Linked DNA regions of Homo sapiens. The protein of the gene in region 1 interacts with the protein of each later gene in a pairwise test. Each region holds a gene or a part of one and is shown on either strand. Other genes may lie near its edges.

The links.
Region 2: the proteins of ZRANB1 (region 1) and EHHADH interact in binary tests that used the Homo sapiens proteins (3 or more experiments, as listed by UniProt).
Region 3: the proteins of ZRANB1 (region 1) and JRK interact in binary tests that used the Homo sapiens proteins (3 or more experiments, as listed by UniProt).
Region 4: the proteins of ZRANB1 (region 1) and CDC45 interact in binary tests that used the Homo sapiens proteins (3 or more experiments, as listed by UniProt).

The regions. Positions count from the first base shown.
Region 1 is NC_000010.11:124,980,076-124,987,122, forward strand, and holds part of ZRANB1 (ubiquitin thioesterase ZRANB1), read left to right. Parts: intron 1-1,149; exon of another isoform or gene 1,150-1,253; intron 1,254-1,633; coding exon 1,634-1,754; intron 1,755-3,099; coding exon 3,100-3,229; intron 3,230-3,383; coding exon 3,384-3,613; intron 3,614-4,241; exon of another isoform or gene 4,242-4,698; coding exon 4,699-4,917; 3' UTR 4,918-7,047. UniProt on the Homo sapiens protein: Ubiquitin thioesterase, which specifically hydrolyzes 'Lys-29'-linked and 'Lys-33'-linked diubiquitin. Also cleaves 'Lys-63'-linked chains, but with 40-fold less efficiency compared to 'Lys-29'-linked ones.
Region 2 is NC_000003.12:185,251,019-185,259,034, reverse strand, and holds the start of EHHADH (peroxisomal bifunctional enzyme), read left to right. Parts: upstream 1-4,985; 5' UTR 4,986-5,012; coding exon 5,013-5,086; exon of another isoform or gene 5,087-5,209; intron 5,210-5,762; exon of another isoform or gene 5,763-5,825; intron 5,826-8,016. UniProt on the Homo sapiens protein: Peroxisomal trifunctional enzyme possessing 2-enoyl-CoA hydratase, 3-hydroxyacyl-CoA dehydrogenase, and delta 3, delta 2-enoyl-CoA isomerase activities. Catalyzes two of the four reactions of the long chain fatty acids peroxisomal beta-oxidation pathway.
Region 3 is NC_000008.11:142,656,955-142,660,009, reverse strand, and holds the end of JRK (jerky protein homolog), read left to right. Parts: 3' UTR 1-1,065; coding exon of another isoform or gene 1,066-1,155; 3' UTR 1,156-2,550; downstream 2,551-3,055. UniProt on the Homo sapiens protein: May bind DNA.
Region 4 is NC_000022.11:19,517,890-19,521,125, reverse strand, and holds the end of CDC45 (cell division control protein 45 homolog), read right to left. Parts: intron 2,283-3,236; coding exon 2,218-2,282; 3' UTR 2,217-2,217; intron 646-2,216; 3' UTR 518-645; downstream 1-517. UniProt on the Homo sapiens protein: Required for initiation of chromosomal DNA replication. Core component of CDC45-MCM-GINS (CMG) helicase, the molecular machine that unwinds template DNA during replication, and around which the replisome is built.

The DNA.
Region 1 (7,047 bases):
ATTATGATTGGGATTGCATTGAATCTGTAGATTTAATTGGGGTGATGGTGGTATTGCCAGCTTGACAATATTGAGCCTTCCAATCCATGAACATGGAATTGAGTTTTGAATGTTAAACCAAACTGGTATTCCTGTACCATTTGGTCATATATTGCTGGATTTGGTTTGCTTGTCTGTTCTTATGGAGACTCTGGTAGTATCAGAGTTTAGGTCTTGGGGTGGTGAGGATGAACATTTTAACATGTTTAGTTTTAAAGTATATTTCATTGAACCTCCCTTCTTCAGTGGTCTTTGAAGAGTTTTGAGTGCAATCACCATTGAATTTCTGGCTGGCTTAGCTGTCTTATTTATAAAGTTATTTTAGGCACCAAGAAATTTCTAACTGCATATAACTTTCAGTATTGACAATTTCTCTGATATTTCTCCTTGAACTTTTCAAAACAATGTATTTCATCACTGTTGCCAAAATTTTCAAGACACATTTATCTTAGCGATTATAAAAGAATATACATATTTTAATTTTAAAACATTTGGAATTATGATTAAACATCCTCAGTTACGTGGAGTATGAAAAATGTTTTAAACTGAGTTAAACCTCTGGAACATTATATTTTAATTTCTTTAGGAAATATATTTACTCTCTAAGGAGCCCTTCATTAAATTACTGTAAAGTTACTTGTGACACCACCCATTTAACTTTTTTTTTCCCCCCGCAATATAGCCGGGGTCTCACTATGTTGGCCAGGTTGTTTTGAATTCTGGACCTCAGGCAATCCTCCTCCTTCAGCTTCCCAAAGTGCTAGAATTACAGGTGTGAGTTACCACACGTGTTCACGTTTAACTTTAATATGCTGAAACTTTTTAACAACAGGAACAGATTGGTCTTTTGTTTCTTTTACCTAGAATTCAGATGTATAGAAGATAAATGTGATGTTATAAACAGATTAAATGTCTGTCTGCATTTTAGAGGTCTTAGTTGGCTTGTTTTTATAAGACAGTGAACCATAATTTTGAGCATAATTATTTCTGAATTTTTATATTTGATAGACAAAGAATCGATGTGTTTTCAGTAATTCAGTGTTAAGCATAAAGAAGGAATGTTTTCTGTCATTGCAGTGGGTTTCTTTTTGGTTGCTTTTGAATTATTAGGTGATCATCAGAGAAATTATTTATGGAAAGAAATCTCAGGGAGATGATCTTGATACTATGAACACACGGAATATTTCCCACCTGTTGTTTATACAAGTGATCAAGTAGGTGGTGTACTATACATTGATAGAGAAATGTAGTGTCTTTGTATACAACATTTCAGATGACTTTTTTTTTTTTTTTTTGTAAACTAATTGTGGACAGTGGAAAATAACCAGTCTCATCATTAGCGTTTGAAGTTTGAAAATTTGGTTGTCGGTAAATCAAATTCTGACTAAAGATGTTAAAGGATGTTACAAGGTATCTGCTAGTGGAAGAGGGAGGCATTTTTCATTAGAAAAATACATTACCAACCAGACAAAATAAAATTATTAATTGTTTCACAGACTGCTTAAAGACTGCATTAAATAAAAATGATCAGAACTTTAAATGTTTTATTTATAGAAGACTATTTATTTATTTTTTTACTATCCTGCTTTTTTAGGTTTTACACACGCTGGAAAGATTGGGAATCATGGTATTCTCAGAGCTTTGGTTTACATTTTTCCTTGAGAGAAGAACAGTGGCAAGAAGACTGGGCATTTATACTCTCTCTTGCTAGTCAGGTGAGGATGCTTCAAGTCTTGTTGCTTCTATGAGAAAAGTAAGCATGTAGTCTAAACTGGTTTATTTGAGCAAACCATGTTGGGGGCAATGTGGTCAAAGAAAAGAATGCTTGACGTGGTATCATCAGTCAACTTGGGTTCTAGTGATGACTGCTGTGTATCAAATAAATAGCATCGCAAGTATAGATGAGCATCGCAAGTATAGATTAGCATCGCAAGTCCTCACTGCAGAGCAGGAAGAGTAACGTGTTTTTATATCGAATGATTAAAAACATCAAAAAGTGAAAGCTGTGCTATGACGGTTACATACAGTAGATAGTCTTGGGATTGCTCTCCGTTCCTGCAGCATAGGCTTGATGCCTATGGTACCTATCCAGGTGAGCTCTGTTCTGTCTCTGGGGACACTTAAGATTACTGGTGTAGGTACTTGCATTGCTGTTGCTGATCTGTCAGGCCCTGAGGAACCAGTTGTCAATCTTCATAATGCTCCCTGTGGTGAGGCAATACCTGTGTCATGTAGGCAAAGGAAAAGGGTAGTTTAGCTTACTCTGAACTAATTACCATCAATAGGAATGATTTCTGATTAATGTGGGAATGAAGTTTTGCAAGTTTGCTAACGTCTTTTTATTAATGAAGGCTGCTTGTGACACAGAACTGTGTAGGGTTGTCCCTTAGACTCTTGGTTTCATGCTTTATTTTGTGAAGCACTTCAGTATACCAAACTGTAAAGTACAAATATATATACAACTACTCCTTTTTTTTTGCAGAAAGCACCATGGTTCATTTGAACTTAGAGAAGGAGGTACCCGATCTTTGGGCAATTTGGGCAGGATTCATAGTGGTTGATTTACATGAGACATGTATCTCACACCATGCATTGTAGCTCGATGATGGACCCATTTAATATTAGTATTCACGAGTTAGTTGATACTGCCATTTACATTTGCATGAAACAGGCTCACTTATTTATTTCAGGAGGACTTTGTTGTAGGTAGTGCTTTCACAGTAACTTAACGAGAATGTGATAATAAAGCATCCTTAGTTATCTGAATCTCTGGTTCCTGAGGTTGGAGAGTTAGTAGTGAGGGATATTTCAAAGTATGTATGCACATCTGTATAATTTGTGAGTTTGGATGGTAAATGATATTTGCATGTAGCCTTTATAGATTTCTTTTACAGTTTTACTGGATTTATTATTTGAGGAATCAAATGCTGCTTTGACAATCTTTTCTTTCTTAAAAACCAACTGCGATAGTATACTGAAGGGGAGGTAGTATTGTTTTTTACACATCAGTTTTCCAGGAGTGGTAATAAATGTTTTAAGTTTTTGTTTTGTTTCGTACAGCCTGGAGCAAGCTTGGAGCAGACGCACATTTTTGTACTGGCACATATTCTTAGACGACCAATTATAGTTTATGGAGTAAAATATTACAAGAGTTTCCGGGGAGAAACTTTAGGATATACTCGGTTTCAAGGTAAGCCATTATTCAGGAACGTTTTACAAGTTTCTTTGAACGGAATGGCTCAGATGTCAGGAAGGAGCAGTGGACAGGGGAATGTGAACAAGGGCAGTGAGGGAGTGGCTCTTTCTTCCTGTGACTGTTGGGATTTTCTTCCCTCTCTTTCCAGGTGTTTATCTGCCTTTGTTGTGGGAACAGAGTTTTTGTTGGAAAAGTCCGATTGCTCTGGGTTATACGAGGGGCCACTTCTCTGCTTTGGTTGCCATGGAAAATGATGGCTATGGCAACCGAGGTGCTGGTGCTAATCTCAATACCGATGATGATGTCACCATCACATTTTTGCCTCTGGTTGACAGTGAAAGGAAGCTACTCCATGTGCACTTCCTTTCTGCTCAGGAGGTAAGCAGTTTCTCCTATGAACTATTTCTAGTAGTGACCTTGTACCAGAAACAGCCTGAAGTGCCTTTCAGGTGTGGTTTTATCTGCACTATCACTTAATTTCTGAATGTGATGGTAGTAATTGCTGAAGGTACTAGCTATACTTTGAAATTTACCTTTTCAAAACTGCTGTATGGGGACACATCAAGGAACTTAAGGTGGTGATGGGTTTTAAGAAGAAAAAGTAAAGATGAGGTTTGTGATTTAAATATGGCATTTTAGGGAATGAGAAGTGAGTTTTTATCTGAAAGCAGAGTTCCAAGAATTGCAAGGCCAGTGTGGTTTAAGAGGGGAAGCAACAGGGAAAGAGAGAGGGTAGGCGGCAGGGGGAGGGAGGAAGGGAGAAGAGGTCAGAGAGGATAGGGATGGGGGGGAGTTCATTGAAGGCTTTTTAAAGCTTTGGGTTTTACTCTGGATAACGTGGTAAACCAATGGCCAGTTTACCCAGAAGAGGAACATTTGGGGTCTGGTGCATGGCAGGAGCAGGAACACCAGGTATTGTAGATGAAGGGGAGTGAAAGGGTGCTGTAGACCAGACAGGGGAGGTGGTGAGAAGGTACAAAAACAACGCTCTTTCAGAAAGCCAGTATTCTTATAAAAGTATTGGTCTTTTATTTAATATACTAGTAATTATAAAACGTTTATAATCACAACATGAAGAAAAAAAGTTCATAGACCGTAACTTGTATAATTTCAGCTTGTACATAATTGACTAAGTAAACTTACCTTGTCATGTGTTTGAAGCTGTGGCTTGCCAGGATCAGTTTATTAGGACATTTGTTTTTTATTTTATCTAACAAATTACCCTCTAGTGTGCTCCTCTTTAGTTTTTTTCTGAGAAATTTCCCATTTATGTCTTTTTAAATTTAACCAGAGCAAACTGGACTTTAATCACAAAACTTCCAAGAGGTCAAAACCATGTGAAAAGTTGATTGCTTTGGCCTTTTCATGAGTTAGCATACCAGCTGTAGGTTTCCATGTCACATTCCTACCAAGTCTCTGATCTGTTGTATGATTTTCCCTTTGTCTTCATATTCCTCCAAAAGCTAGGTAATGAGGAACAGCAAGAAAAACTGCTCAGGGAGTGGCTGGACTGCTGTGTGACGGAGGGGGGAGTTCTGGTTGCCATGCAGAAGAGTTCTCGGCGGCGAAATCACCCCCTGGTCACTCAGATGGTAGAAAAATGGCTTGACCGCTACCGACAGATCCGGCCGTGTACATCCCTGTCTGATGGAGAGGAAGATGAGGATGATGAAGATGAATGAAAAAAAAAATCAAACAGCAGAAGACCAAGGCATCAGATCTGTAATGACCCTAAAGTTAGTGTGGTGCTCCAAGCAGAGTCGACATCATGGAATGAACCAAATCTGGCAGGATCTGCTCGGGGAAGTGTTTTCCTGGACCACACACACCTTATGGAGATAATGCCTCTGCTGCGTGAGGAGACAGAGAACTTTAGTTGGACTACAGTTTGTAAAAAAAACTAATTTTATTAAGACAGAACTTTTTTTCCTTCCAAATTGTAAATCTGTCTATAAATGTAACGCATGTGGTTGTGTAAGACATTGTTTAATAGGAAAAGTTGTACCAGCATCTTCATATTATTGAGAAAATTTTTTCCAGCATGGGCACTTAGAAAAAGCACATGGCAAATGGCTCTTTGTTCCTTTCAGATATTATTTCAGTAGAACCTGGCATTCTACTTTCACCTTAAAAGATCCATCTAAGTCTCAGATCTGGAAACGTTTTGTACCGATTATCCACAGCAAAACAAAAATAAGCTTTTATTTTATTAATAATTTCGTTCCTCTTGTGCCCAATCAAATCTTTTAGGAACAAACTGCAAGAAAAGCTAAGAATGTTTTAGAGTGAACTAAATACAGACATTGCTTACTTGTTTTGAAGAGGGTTTTGGTTTTGGTTATTGTGTCTTTAAGTTTTCTGATATGCCCCCTTTCAATATTTAGATATTTATTTGTTGGGAAGAATACCTTAAAATGAGGGTTCTTATTCCAGATTCTGGGCAGTGGTCTGTGAGTAGTTTTTTTCCTGGATGAAAAGGGAGCAAGCCCACTTGTCACTAAATGAATTGTGTGAAATGTGCTCACTTGGACTCCATCAACAATGTGCTGCTCCCAGATTGCCATGCCAGAGGGTCTTCGGATTCTTCCTTCTATCACCTCTGCTCTAAGCAAATCTTGTTAGAAGGGCATGCCTTTGCTTAGGCAGATTGGGAATACCAATTCACTACAGAATAAAGATTTTAAAAATGCAATAAGGTGGCAAATGCATTGTATGAAGAATTTCTCAGTGTTTAGTCTGAGAATTTTTGCATGTTGGTTAATTGTGGCCATTCTTTAATTTAAAGTTAAAACTATAATCTTAGGTAGAAAAACTTTTTTATAAGAAGTATTATTTGACCACTTCAGGTATACATTCAATACTGGGTAAAAATTTCAGACCTATCTCAGGAACACAGAAATATTTGGTGTCCTGATAAGCACTTTCTAGACTATTGATGTGGCCAGGAATTTGGAAAGACGACACACGCACGCGCGCGCGCGCACACACACACACACACACACACACACACACAGTTTTTTCCTTCCCTGTGATGAAAAAGGCTGTGAAAACCTTAAAGTATTTGCTTGCTTCTTGTTTTGTTTAGTTGATAATGAAATGTGTACAACCTCAAATTTGCTGCCAGAATACTAAAAATAGAAAAATACCCACAAAACTGTCATGTCTTTAGTTCTTTCCCCCCGAAAACTCAGTAAAAAGGTGTTCCCAGGATGAAAAGATCATTTTTTGCTGCATGCTAAATCTTGCAGGAAAAATGATTTTTTAGTACGATTCTGTAGAAATGAATCTTTGATATAATGTAAATGCTGCTGTTTGTTTCAAGTGGTGAATGTGTTGTTAAAAATTGGCTGTTTGCTTTCATTTTGGCCAATAAGTAATCAAGTTTGTAGAAAATGTTAGCATTCTGACTACTTAGCATCTGTAGTAATTTCTCTATGTATAGGGATAATTTTTTAGTGGGCAGAGATCCTGTTCTAGTTGCCTGTTAAGCAAAATCTGCCCTCCCAATTGAAAAAGCCAAAGAGAATTGTTAGAGGGAAAAGCATGTAGCCATTGCAGTCTGCATTGCAGCCAGCGTTGTCCAGAGTACACGCTCAGCACTTAGCTTCTACTGTGTGTTGTGGTCTGGTGAGTGTTGTTTCCCCTGAGCGCTCTATTATTTATTTATTTATTATCAATCAGTGACCCTGACCACATAGTGTGATAGGTGCAGCATTCTTCCCTGTGGGAAAGAATTAAAGATGGTTCCATTTCCTAGGCTACAGACAGGAATGGGGCTCTAAATGGTTTTCATAGACTGGCTGTTAAAGGCC
Region 2 (8,016 bases), on another chromosome or scaffold:
ACAATGAGAACACTTGGACACAGGGCGGGGAACATCACACCCCAGGGCCTGTCAGGTGGTAGGGGGCTGGGGGAGGGATAGCGTTAGGAGAAATACCTAATGTAAATGATGAGTTGATGGGTGCAGCAAACCAACATGGCACATGTATACCTATGTATCAAACCTGCACGTTGTGCACATGTACCCTAGAACTTAAAGTATAATAATAATAAAAAAGACACATGCACACGTATGTTTATTGCAGCACTATTCACAATAGCAAAGACTTGGAACCAACCCACATGTCCATCAATGATAGACTGGATTAAGAAAATGTGGCACATATACACCATGGAATACTATGCAGCCATAAGAAAGGATGAGTTCATGTCCTTTGCAGGGACATGGATGAAGCTGGAAACCATCATTCTGAGCAAACTATCACAAGTTCTCACTCATAGGTGGGAGTTGATCAACGAGAACACATGGGCACAGGGAGGGGAACGTCACACAACAGGGCCTGTCGGTGGGTGGTGGCCTGGGGGAGGGATAGCATTAGGAGAAATACCTAATGTAAATGACGCGTTGATGGATGCAGCAAACCAACATGGCACATGTATACCTATGTAACAAACCTGCACGTTGTGCACATGTACCCTAGAACTTAAAGTATAATTAAAAAAAAAAAAGAAAAGGTTATTTATGAAACAATGTAGTAAGGAACCAGTAAGTAGGGGAGAGAAATGTGAAAAAAAAAAGTTTAGATAATAAAATATTCCTTAAAACCTGATAGAAAATTGGAGAAATTTGACTAATTAACATTTCATAGTTAGAGCTCTTAGTCTTGCCTAAAGTAAAATAAGAAATATAAGTATATTTTTTAATATACTTAAGCATGAAGCTGGTTAAGTATGGAGCTAAATTTCACATACATGCATGCATTGCTTCACACCGTTTACTGTTTTGCATGGATAGTGCTGGCACTGGAGTACTTATTGGTCATGTGCCTAGAGTGAATTTCTTGATTGTACAGGATGTATGATGATATTGGTGGACTTAAGGATATTGAATGGTGTATCAGGAATAAAATATTCATTATATGGGTGTTTGGGGGCCCTGAGTAACACTGTAGCCTCCAGGGTAGATTGAGTAGGAAAAATTTAGGGTGGGGTTCCTGTTTGTTTTTGCTTCTAATTTTCATTTGTTTGCTGTTTATTCTCCTCCAGGCTTTGCTTGTGGTCGCATAAATAGAAAACCATTTTTTTGTTTGTTGTTTTAGTTTCTAGTGGAAGGCTTTTATTTGGTTCTGTGAATAGTTATTTTATTTTCTATGCATTTCTACCAAGTCATCATTTGTTCCATTTATCTGGAATTCCTAGGCTACCTTTGTTGAGCTCACAGGAATTGGTGGAGCACACTAAGCTTTTTAACCTTAAACTAACTTTTTGGATATTAGGCTTCCTGATACTTTAAGTATATTGAGTATACTTTTGTAAATAGAACTTGAGTCATATTTCTCTCTCTCTGCCTAATTTCTTCAAAATTTGTAAATTGTTTGTGAATATTCTTAATTCATAGCAATGTGTTTGTTTGCATACAGTTGAGCAGGGTCACTAGGGCTGCTCATGGAGAGAGAACTCAAGAAAGCTGACATGCCGGCAAAAGGGTAAGAATTTCTTACCAGTTGGACTTCTGGCCCCTCTTTGTGCAAACTGGTTGAATGAATGGTAAAATATAATGAGAAGGCATGAGAATGTTAATTTTTATAAACATTTAACAAGCTTCCCAAAATCAAATTGCAGCTTCAAAATTGTCTTTTCTGACCTCAAACTTTGAGATGCTACAGCAGGCCCGTGAACCATCCAAAAGAGAGGTAAACAGGATTATTTGATATGTTTAGTTACATGGGAAGCATTGTGAAAATAAAAAATAATGTTTAATCATCTTCAGGTTATATATTAGTGAATGATATTAATATATGTTCCAGAATTGTATGGAATTTCTAAAATTCTAATATGTCTGAGTATATGCTATCAATCATAATTATTGTGTTATTGTAGACCACAGAAATAACCAAATCTCCTTGTCAATAGTGTTTTTAACTATCACTATTTAAAGTCATTTGAACTCCATGGTCTAAGTCAAATCAGCTATGAAAACCCATTAGTTATCAGTGCTATGCACCTAAATTGGAGAAACAACTGGTATTCAAGAGGACATAAGTCCAGTGTTAAGCATGGACTCATGGAAAACCAAGATGGCCACCTTGTTCTTCCTGAGTCCTTAAAGCTTTTGTTATTAAAGTTTCTGCATTCCGTGACTCATCATGGAAAAGATAAAATGATCCAGATTAAATATATACTGGTTTGCTGACTTATAAATTGCTAAAATAGTTTATAACCAATGTTTGGTTTACAATCAAAGCTTCAGGTACATTTGGCTACCTGATGGGCCATTTAAACATTTAAATTGTCATTTTATTTATTTATTTTTTTTTTTTTGAGATGGAGACTCGCCTGTTGCCAGGCTGGAGTGCAGTGGTGCAAGCTCAGCTCACTGCAACCTCCACCTCCCAGGTTCAAGTGATTCTCCTGCCTCAGCCTCCTGAGTAGCTGGGATTACAGGCATGTGCCACCACGCCGGGCTAATTTTTGTATTTTTATTAGAGACAGGGTTTCACCATGTTGATCAGGCTGGTCTCAAACTCCTGACCTTGTGATCTGCCCACAATGGCCTCCCAAAGTGCGGGGATTACAGGTGTGAGCCACTGCACCCAACCATCATCCTTCATTTACATAGGGCATACACCAGGTAACCAATGCAAACCTCTAGAGGGTATTGAAATCCCAGAAAATTCTGTAACTGGTCCCTTGAGCCACTTGCTCAGGCCTGCTCCCACCCTGTGGAGTGTGCTTTCATTTTCAATAAATCTCTGCTTTTGCTACTTCATTCTTTCCTTGCTTTGTTTTGCATTTTCAATTCTTTGGTCAAAACGCCAAGAACCTGGACACCGTCCACCCATAACAGTTTCGCTAGTTGCATGTGATTGTAAGACAAATAAAAATGATGTTGTGGGCTGGGTGCGGTGGCTCACGCCTGTAATCCCAGCACTTTGGGAGGCCGAGGCGGGTGGATCACAGGGTCAGGAGATCAAGACCATCCTGGCTAACACGGTGAAACGCCATCTCTACCAAAAATACAAAGAATTAGCCAGGCGTGGTGGCGGGCGCTTGTAGTCCCAGCTACTCGGGAGGCTGAGGCAGGAGAATGGTGTGAACCCGGGAGGCGGACTTGCAGTGAGCTGAGATCGCGCCACTGCATTCCAGCCTGGTCGACAGAGCCAGACTCCGTCTCAAAAAATAAAAATTAAAAAAAAAAAAAGATGTTGAGGCAGGAGTATAGGGCCTGAAGGCAGGGAACCTAAAGACTTTCTAGAACTAAATCAAATGGAAACACTTCAGCTATGACAGGAAATATTCTCTTCATTTACATAGGGTGTACACTGAGTAAATGACTTCGTAACTTCACTTCGTCCTCTTCATTTACATAGGGCGTACACCCAGTAACCAATGGGAAACCTCTAGAGGGTATTGAAACCCCAGAAAATTCTGTAACAAGGTCCCTTGGGCCTCTTTCTTGGGCCCACTCCCACCGTGTGGAGTGTCTTTTCGTTTTCAATAAATATTCGCTTCTGTTGCTTTGTTTTTCCCTTGCTTTGTGTGTTTCGTCCAATTCTTTGTTCAAAACGCCAAGAACCTGGACAACTTGCAGTCCAGACCCTCCTCTAGTAACAATGTTATATAAGTATTTGGTTGATGTTAGAGTAATCACTGGATGGGTTCTTCCTGCCTGCTGCACAAACAAAATCAATTCAGGAAGACCACAGCATTGCAGTAAGGAAAGAGTTTAATTGATGTGAGGCTGGCCACGCCACATGGGACATGGAGTTATTACTCAAATCAATCTCATCGAAGGCTAGTAGGTTAGGGGTTTTTCAAAGGTGGTTTGGTGGGCAGGGGCTAGGGTATGGAAAATGCTGACTGGTTGGGTTGGAGATGAAATCATAGGGGTTGAAGCTATCCTCTTGTACTGAGTTGCTTGTGGGTGGGGCCACAGGAGCTGTTGACTGGTCCAGGTGGAGCCATCAGTGTCAGGCAAACGTGAAAAAATATCTCAAAAGGCCAAACTTAGGTTCTACAATAGTAATGTTACCTGCAGGAGTAAATGGGGAAGTTGTCTATCTGGTGGCTTCCGGAATAATGGCTGGCAATGGTCTATGTTTACACCTTAGCAGAGAGAATTCACACTCCTCTGTCCTCCTAGCCTGGTGGTCTCTCGGTTAGCTTTACAAAGGCAGTTGAGTTTTGGGGAAGGGCTATTATCATTTAAACTATAAACCAAATGTCTCCCAAAGTTAACTTGGCCTAAGCTCAGGAATAATTAAGGGCAGCTAAAGGCAAGATGGGGTTGGTTAAATCAGATCTCTTTGACTGCCATAATTTTCTCACTGTTAGAATTTTTGCAAAGGCTGTTTCATTAGTACCCTACTCATTTAGGTGAAATGAACAATGTGTATTTTATGTGTTCCAGATGTGTATCAATATCACATAACTGTCAGGGAGGGCCCCAGGTATCTGTCCCTGTTCAGAAAGATCATGAAGATGAATACCGCGATGAGGACAGCTTGCCCGTCTCAGCGAACTCAGAACTTGTCCTCAGTAGCCAGCCCCTATGGGCCAAGGGGTTACAAACTTCGACTTGCCGGCAATTACAGCTGTTTTCCATCATTCTCCTTGCTGTACCTTCTGGTGGGAGCAGCATGGGAGTTAATAAAGGGAAAGCGACAAGCGTCTGTAGAGCGCCGGGTGGGGTCTCGGGAGAGGAGGGCTGGGTGGGAAGAGGCGCGGCGGGAGGCGGCGCCCCGGCTCGCATTGGCCCAGCCGGCGTCCCTCCTCTGGAGGAGGCCGGGCGCGCCCGGAAAAGTGGTTTGCCTGACGGCGAGAGGCAGAGGTGCCCTCGGTGATAGAGGAAACATGGCCGAGTATACGCGGCTGCACAACGCCTTGGCGCTAATCCGCCTCCGAAACCCGCCGGTCAACGCGATCAGGTAACGGGCTCGGTCGCCTCCAGCCCGGGGACCGTGCGGGCCTTAGCCGCCCTCTGGCTCCGGAGGCTTTGACTCTCCCCCGTCGGTTTAAACCGAGAAGGACACTCAAGAGTTGAGCAACTGGTACATGCCAGGAACTTTTTTTTTCTTTTCTTTCTTTCTTTTTCTTTTCTTTTTTTTTTTTTTTAACCTAGATTAGCTTGGTTAATCTTCGCAGGGAACTCTCGTCCCCGTTTTACTGATAAGGAAACTGAGGCTGAGGCTGAGACAGATCAACACTTAGGGAGTTGGCCTCGACCTGTCCTTCATGCGGAGCCCTCCTGCTTACTTGCAACTTTGGCTTTGCAGGCCGACTTTTTATTTTTCTTTTTTTTTTTTAATTATACTTTAAGTTTTAGGGTACATGTGCACAACGTGCAGGTTAGTTACATATGTATACATGTGCCATGTTGGTGTGCTGCACCCATTAACTCGTCATTTAATATTAGGTATATCTCCTAATGCTATCCCTCCCCCCTCCCCCCACCCCACAACAGGTCCCAGTGTGCAGGCCGACTTTCTAATCCAAAGGTCTTAACTTAGTTTGATGTTGGACTTTGATCCAGCCTCACTCCCCTTCTTTGAGTCCAGGCTGTCCTTACAATGTTTGGCTAAAGGCTTTAGGAATAGGGCAATCACTGGCATTAGTGGGACTTTTTTTTTTTTTTTTTTTAATGTTAAAAGTCCCACTAATGCCAGCTCAGTGATTAAAGCAGAATTTTGCCCTGGCCCGGAAACGCAAAATTATTTCTCCTGATTTGTTTAAACCTCAGGACTTTGGTGCTTCCAAGGAAGACTCACATCAGACTAAGCCTATGCAATAGCATTTTCTGAAAAATTGCACCTTATCTTCTTTTTCTCACTGGGGAGTATTTGCCTTGTGTGGTGCACTTTAAACATTAAAAAGTGAGATCAATGTTGCCTTTTTGAAAAGTAATGATTATTTGGTTTGGTCCTTCTACATCTCTTAAAAAAATAATTATATGTCAGCCTTGAAAAAGAATTACCTATCCACAGGGAATAAGATTAGTGGAAATTATAATTTATCAAGAATATATAAAGCATAGAGAGAAAGGTCTTTGGTCAAAATTCTTATAACATGCTGCTGAAGCAAAGAGACTGAAATGAGAAGACCTGCTAATTTTAATAGAATTTAAAAATCCTACTGTCATTGGATTTGATTTATCATTAGTATTAATATTAATTCATTATGAATTATTGCATTTAATAATGTCAAAAAATGCAGGACTAAAATCACATAAGGATGACATGTCTACTAACTTGCCATTCCCAGAATAAAAAGCAAAATATCTGTTATATTGGTTTTGACAAAGAAAAATGTAAGTAATATGATTACATGTCAATTTTGGACTGGTCTATATACTGATTAGAATTGCTAGATATTAGGACCTTAGGGGGAAAAGTTCCATACTCTAATACCCATGACTAGGAATATTTTCTGACAACTGTTTTTTTTTTTTCTTTTTTTTTTAAGCTCATTTGCTTGTTTTGAGACGGAGTCTTGCTCTGTCGCCAGGCTGGAGTGCAGTGGCGTGATCTCAGCTCACTGCAACCTCTGCCTCCCGGGTTCAAGTGATTCCCCTGCCTCAGCCTCCCGAGTAGCTGGGACTACAGGTGCGTGCCACCACGCCCAGCTAATTTTTTGTATTTTAGTAGAGACGGGGTTTCACCATGTTGGCCAGGATGGTCTCAATCTCCTGACCTCGTGATCCACCTGCCTCGGCCTCCCAAAGTGCTGGGATTACAGGCATGAGCCACGTGCCCAGCCTCTGACAATTGCTTTTAATATTTCTGGAATTTAACCTGCTCTCCTTGCCCACCCATGCAACCACCTGTGCCACCCCCATCCTCTTTGCAGGAGAAATGTTAGGGCCTACCTCATAAAGTTGTGAAGTTTAAATCAGCTGGAAATTATGAAGTGGCATTTAATAGATGTTAGTTATTCCTATTAGTCAGAAGACCTGTTCAAGCCCCAAAAACAGGCCCTGCTACTCAGGACCCACTTCAGTTTCATCAAGAAGATATTCTCCACTTGGGAATAAGTACTTCTCTGCCCTTTTTTGTCTGTCTTCTGAACTTTTTTAGGTAGAAATGGACATCCTAGGAGTTCCTCAAGTTTAACAGATTCCTCAATTTTTTTCTTACACTTTTTCTTTCCTCCCTTTCTTCCTTTTCCCCTTCCTATTTCTAATTTTATATGGGAAGTCGTCTCCTCCTAGCTGATTGAGAGATTCTTACTTGAGTGTAATACACACACACACACACACACACACACACACATATAAATTTTTTCCCCAAAACAAATAGTTTAAATCCTTCATTGCTAGTTTAGCCAGCCATGTTTGCTTCCATTCAGATAAACACCAGCCCTCTTTATAAGTATAGGACATGCCTGATTAATAGGCCTGTCTCCCAGAACAATGGCTTTCACACGATTGCTTTACTGTAATCCACAGAGTAAGAAAGCTCACGTTTTTACGTAGCAATTCAAGACACACTTACATACAAACACGTAACCGAAAGCAGTTTCCTAAAACAAAACCTATCCTTACTTGGTATATTGTTTGATATAGTCTATTTTCTCATCTCTTCTTTTTCTTTGAAAAAATCCTGGTCACAAGCCACAAACTTGATTTGATGACTTTTGGTTTAAAAAAAAAAACTGTCTAAAAAAAAAAGGAAAGACCTTCTATAGTCAAAGAAGCTGAAGAGTTTTGGTCAGTAGTCATGAAATGCTGTCTCTACTCCAGACTCTATTTCTTCATGCCTGACAGTATTAACAGGAGAAAATAATTTCATAACTTCTGCGGCCTTTACATTGCTATGACTCTCTCTGTCAGCTTGAATCTAGTAAAGTGCGTATCTGTTAT
Region 3 (3,055 bases), on another chromosome or scaffold:
ACGCCCACTCCTTTGCCCATGTGGTGTCAGCTCTGGCCTCTGCTTCTACACATGGACCCTCAGACCTTGCACATCTGTTGTTTCCCTTGCAGGGCAGTGATGATGACATGAAATGAGGTGGGGTCACTCCTGTTTAGGGATGAGACTGGGGCCCAGGGAGGGGCAGGTGTGAAGTTGCTGAGGGCAGAGGGAGACCCAGGGCTACCTGCTCCTAATGACCAGCCTCACGTTCTCCACTGCTCACTCCCTGCTGTTCACCAGCTGCATGACCTTGAGCAGTGCACTCAACTGTAAACAGAGGTGAAAACACTCCTTTACCAACTGTTTTAGGGGCCACTCTTGTTTGAGGCCTTGAACCTCCTTTCAGTTCCGTGGTGGTCCTGAGCCTCTGAATCTGGGTATGGCCCCTGCTGGGTCCTGGTCTCTTAGGCAGCACGATGGCCTCCCTGCTCAAGGCCCTGCACCCAGGGGCAGATTGTGGGAGGCCCACTGGCCATGGCTGGGCCCTATCGCAGAGAGCCTGTCAGCACGGCCATTTCCACACCCAGGCTGGCTGGGAAGCAAGCTACGAGGTGCTCAAAGGCCCTCTATGTCTGCAGGTAGCCCCGTCCCACACAGGCGAGGATCGTTGGGCCTCCTTAGTAGCCAAAGGAACTGAGGTCCAGAGCAGGGAATGTGTTGCCCAGTGTCAGCATGGTCTGCTCTGGGGTCAGGCGTCTTGCCCTGGTCCTAAGCCACCCCAAGCCAAGGCATGTCCCTGGGCCCATTTCCTCTCTCGAGGTCTTGGGTTCCCTATTTCTGATGTGTGTGAAAGGAAGGCCTGTCCTCTGGGGTGACCATGAGGCTCAGTGGGAGGAGCTGCCAGGCTTGAGCTGGGACTTGGCACCTGGCCAGCCTTTTTTCTATTTCATTGTACCTTGATGGGCTGTCAGTTCTGAAGAGAAAAAATACACTAGGAATCCATTCTTCCTCCACCATTCTCCCTGGCAGAGGGAAGTGACTACACCCCTATGGTGTGGACATACTGACGCTCCTCCATGAAGCAGCAAAGTTCTGTTGTTTCAGGAGACTGTGGGCCTTGAGGATGTGGTAGTGACCTCACCAGAGGAGTTGGCAATTCCTAAGTGCTGCCTGGAGGCCTCTACAGAGACATAATGTTGGAGAACTTCTGCCACATGGCAGTGCTGGGTAAGACCCCTCTGTCCCCACCAGTGCCCTTGAGGTTATGGGTGTTGGTAGGTCTGTGGCCTCCATCTCCATGACGATGGTGTTAAGGACTGCATGTTTGTGTCCCCCCCCAAAGTTTATATGTTGAAACCCTGACCCCCAGGAGGGTGGTATTAGGAGGTGGGGCCTTTGGGAGGTGACTAGGCTTAGGTGAGATCGTGAGGGTGGGGCTCGCCGATGAGATCGAGTCCTTATAAGAAAAGGAAGGAACTAGAGCGAGGTCACTTTGTGCTGTGTGAGCATACAAGAAAACTGCCATCTTCAAGCTGGGTGCAGTGGCTCACGCCTGTAATCCCAGCACTGGAAGGCCAAGGCATTAGGATTGCATGAGTCCAGGAGTTCGAGACCAGCCTAGGCATGATAAGACCTTATTGCTAAAAAAAAAAAAAAAGGAAATAAAATAGAAAATTGCCATCTGCAAATGAGAAAGCCTTCAGCCGACACCAGACTGCCAGTGCCTTTGATATTGGACTTTCAGTCCCCAGATCTGTGAAAAATTAATTTATGTTGTTTAAGACACCTAGCCTGTGGTATTTTGTTATCGCAATCAAAACTGACTGAGACAGGCAGTAAGGAGAGAACAGAGGTTCCAGCCTGCTTCAGGTCCAGGCAGTTCTGCCATTGCCCCTAACTCCTCAGTGCCAGTCATGGGCCAGGCCCCTGGGGGACTTGGAATGAGTAAAACATGCACCTATTGTTAAGGTTCACCTGGTCCAGAAGGGGAGGCAGACCCACCTGCCCACCATGACCCGGACAGAGGCAATAAATACGGAGCACCTCATGGCCAGGGCCTGGAGGATTCCCACCATACCCTACCCAGCGCCAATAACAGAGGGACCCTGGAGTTGTGTACGCAAGATAGCAGTTCAGTGCTTGCACACATACTAGTTGAGAAGGGAAATCAGGGCTAATGAAACAGCTCAACTGTCTGGCAGAGCCAGGCTCCTTCTGCCATGATACAGTTTGGATGTTTGTCCCTTTCTAATCTTATATGGAAATTTGATCCCCAGTGTTGAAGGTGGGGCCTGGTGGGAAATGTTCCTGTTATCGGGATGGATCCTTCATGAATAGCCTGGTGCCATCTTTGTGGTAACAAGTGAGTTCTCACTTGATTAGTTTCTGTGAGAACTGTTTGTTAAAAAGAGCCTGGTGGCACCTCCCTCCCTTCTTCCTCCTGCTCTTGCTATGTGATGCTGCTGCCCTTTGCCTTCCGTCATGAGTGGAAGCTCCCTGAAGCCCCCACCAGAAGCAAATGCTGGCACCATGCTGCTTGTACAGCCTGCAGAACTGTGAGCCAAATAAACCTCTTTTCTTTATAAATTACTCAGCCTCAGGTGTTACTTTATAACCATGCAAACAGACCAAGACATGCCATGTGTATTTCATGAAGGGAGCCACAGGGTTGAAGATGTTACAGGACACCTGCTCTAATCCCCACCACTGTGTCTGCCTCCCCACCACTGTGTCTGCCTCCAGAAAGCACACCACTTCTGCTCCTGTCCCTCGAGCCAGGTCCCAGTCATATGAGTACAACTAGTTACAAGGGGTCTGGGTAGCATGATTGTAGAGGATGGGTGAGTGAGTATAGGACTCATCTAGCAGTGCAAGTCAGCCCAGGCCTTGTGCCTTCATGCCCTCTCCAGCAATTATGTCTGAGCTCCTCCAGTTTCTGTAAGGAGAGAGCAGAGTTTCCAGCCTGCTTCAGGTCCGTGAAGTTCTGTGTGCTGCGCGGATGTGGCAGTGACTTCACTAGAGGAGTTGGCAATTCCTAAGCCCTCCCCAGAGGCTTCCACAGAGACATAATGTTGGAGAACTTCTGCCTCATGGC
Region 4 (3,236 bases), on another chromosome or scaffold:
CCTCCAGTCCAGCTCTCACCCTTTTGTGCCCACTGCCCTTTGCCAAGGGCTGCACCAAGACCAGCCCCACCTACCTGTGTGCTCTTTTCCAGGCCACTCTTTCTGAGCTTTTCCCCACTGACTTAAAACCTACCCAAATCACTCCTGCCTTCAAAGACCTGGAAAAGAGTGCTGGATGGTGAGACCCACAGGTGGAGGGATGGCTGAGAGGGTGGACTTGCTATGTGGCTGAGGCCAGGTGGACCAGAGGAAGTGGTAGGTGGACAGAGCCAGGTGCTGGCTGGCACCACCAGGCAGTGGCCGGTGCAGGTGCTATGAGGAGGCGGGGATGCCGAGGGGTCCTGACCTCTGTCCACTGCCACCCGGAGGGCCTGGAGGACAGAGTAAGGAGATCTTGTCCTTGGGGCCAATCCCCATGCTGATTTCCTGCCAGGCACTGAGGGCTCCTGGGGCCCAAGACCCACAGAAGGCTCAGAGCACACTCAAGCACTGGCCTCGAGACCAGAGCCACAATGGGGACGGAGCCTAAAATAAGCATTTTATTTAATAAAAAATGGCTTCTACATCTCAAATCATGTCCATAACTTACAATCTAAATGAAAGCCAGTTACATAAATAAGAAGGTCATTCTGGAAGAATCAAATTCTAGAAAACAAAACAAGAAAAAACAAGTTTCAAACGATGTTGATGTGCCACCGAATTGAAGAAACTGCCCAGGCGTCCCCTCTGGGTAGTGCTGCTGAGTAGCCAGGACTGCTTGTGGGGGTGAGGCCACCCCAGACTCGGAGGCCCCTGCTGTCCTCATAGCACCCCTTGACTGGGCTGAGCTGTCCTACATCAGAGCTCCTGCCCCCTGGCCCGGGCACCTTCTTACCTCACGGACCCCGCCCAGCTGCTCAGCCAGCCCCCTGGCACCCTCCCATGGGGGCTCTCCCTCCATCCCTCGGCACTCTGCTGCTCAGCCCTCCTAGCCCAGGCCACCTGTGCCCCTGCCTCAGTGGAAGGACACACAGCAGCATAACATCACCACCAAGCAGGCTGCAGGGGAGGGGTTTGCCTCTAGCACCCACTCCACTGCCAGAGAGCCCCACCTCTGCCTCCGCCCCACCCTATGCAGTCCTGTGATGCTCACACTCATCGTCTAAGGAGAGAGTGGGCCCCATTTTTGGATGAGGAAACAGGCTAAGCCTGATTAGGTGGCTGGCCCAAGGTCACTGCTGATGACCCTACAGAACTTGCCAAAAACCCCGAGGGTCTGACTCAGAGCCCCGCGCCCAAAATGGGCCCCATGTAGCCCAGGCCACCCTGAGAGGAACTGTGGGGTCCCTGAGGCCCCCTATGCTGTTGTCAGCAGAAACCCCCACTCCAGCCCCAACAGGAGAACAGGTGCTTGCCCCTGGAGGGATGGACAGATGGATGGATGGACGGACGGATGGGAGAGTGGGGAGGACCCCAGGCCTGGCCTGAGGGACCTCCTGCAACAGAGTCTTGGCAGGGCCCATCTGCCACAGCCGCAGCCTCCAGGCTAGGGCTCTGGGAGATGCAGGGCTGGATGTGGCATTCCCTGTGGGGAACCTGGGCTGAGAGATGGTTACAAAGACACAAGGCAGGCCTATTTCCTGGGAACCCTTAAGAAAGAGGTAGCACATGGGGCAGTGGGAGGTGTCCCGGGACAGTGACCTGCCAGTGAATCCCAATGGGGCCCTCAGGACAGCTGTGTGCTGGTGAAGGCCCCAGCAGAACCAGCGCTTTGGAATTCCCAGCTAAGCGGCTGCCAACAGCTTTGCTTTCTCATGAGCCAAGCACACAAAAGCCCGGATGGCTGCTCTGCGGGCTCTTGCCCAGCGCCTGACACGAAGGCTGTGGGACAGGAGGCTCCAGGTGGCCTTCGAGGGCAGCACCAGGGAGTCTGTGTGTGACATGTGTCACACGCGATGCCCAGCCCAAGTGTGGTCAGCAGAGGGTGAATACCAGCTCTTTCTGAAGGGATCGCAGGGGCTTAATGAAATTAGCTGCCTCAAAATGCCCCATTGTGGCCCTGCTGGCAGCCTAAGGACAGATGTGCTTGGGAAAAATGTGTTGGCTCCAATCTCAAGAACCCTGCTTCGGTCTGAAACCCAAGTAGAAGCCTCCGTTGAGGGAGGACAGAGCAGGGCATCAGGGTCGGGCTCTGAGGGGGCTGCTGCAGCCACCCCTGCAGAACCCCTGTAACTCACCCTAGGACAGGAGGGAAATAAGTGCGTCCAGAAACTTGCTCCGATCCTCAGCTTTCAGCTCAATTACTGAAGTAATGAAAGAAAAACAGCCGTGAGAAGGGAGGAGTGGGAACACAAGACAGGGCACAGAACTCCCCTCCGCTGCCTGCCCTCCACTGCATTCCAAAGTGCGCGGCTCCTCCCGGCCTGTGGTATTCTGCACTCAGTGGTTGTGTCTGTCTCACTGTACTTCATCTTCACAACTGCTGTCTGCACTGCTAGAGAGGTCAGGGTTGGGGCCTGCAGGGAGAACTCCCCCCCGGGAAGACAATAGAGGTGACACAGGGAAGGGCCCTACAGACCTGGACAAACACGGGCCTGCCCACCCCAGCTGGCATGAACCCCCGTCCCCAGAGTGGGTTGTGGAAGTCCTTGGGTGGGGCAGGTCACTTTTGGCCGCACTCTGGCCAATTCCTCGGCTTCAGTGTTCTCTTCCGCACAAGGGGACATGGTGCAAACTGCCCATATCTCACAGGGCCCTCAGGCTCAGCTGAGCACCCAGACCCTCACCACAAAGCAAAACCAGGCCCCAGGATGGGGCTGGCCTGGCCCTGGGAGCCATCTATGCTGCCAGCCACAGCCCCGAGAGCCCCAGACCCAGCCCACGCAGGTGGGCACTAGACATGGCCCACTCTGCACCCTCACCCCTGGCTCTCCACCCTCAGGGAAACCAAGCAGTTCCCAGCCCGAGTCCTCCCTGTATACTGAAGGCCAGATATTCTGCAGGCCAGTGGGTGTCCATCCACCTCTCCCACATCACAGGCACAAAAGAGTTAGCAGGGGCTGCTGTGCGGGGTGAACCAATGCCACACAGTGCCACAGCCATGGCTGGGTCTGGCTCAAGGAAGGCAGCTCTGAGATGGCTGACGCCACTTCAACAAAGGCTGGATCTCCCATGACAGTGTCTATCATTGTTGAGGAATCCGTGGTGATGAGGCAAGAAAATATCCTTTCTCAGAGGTGCAGGAAGTACTGAGGGTG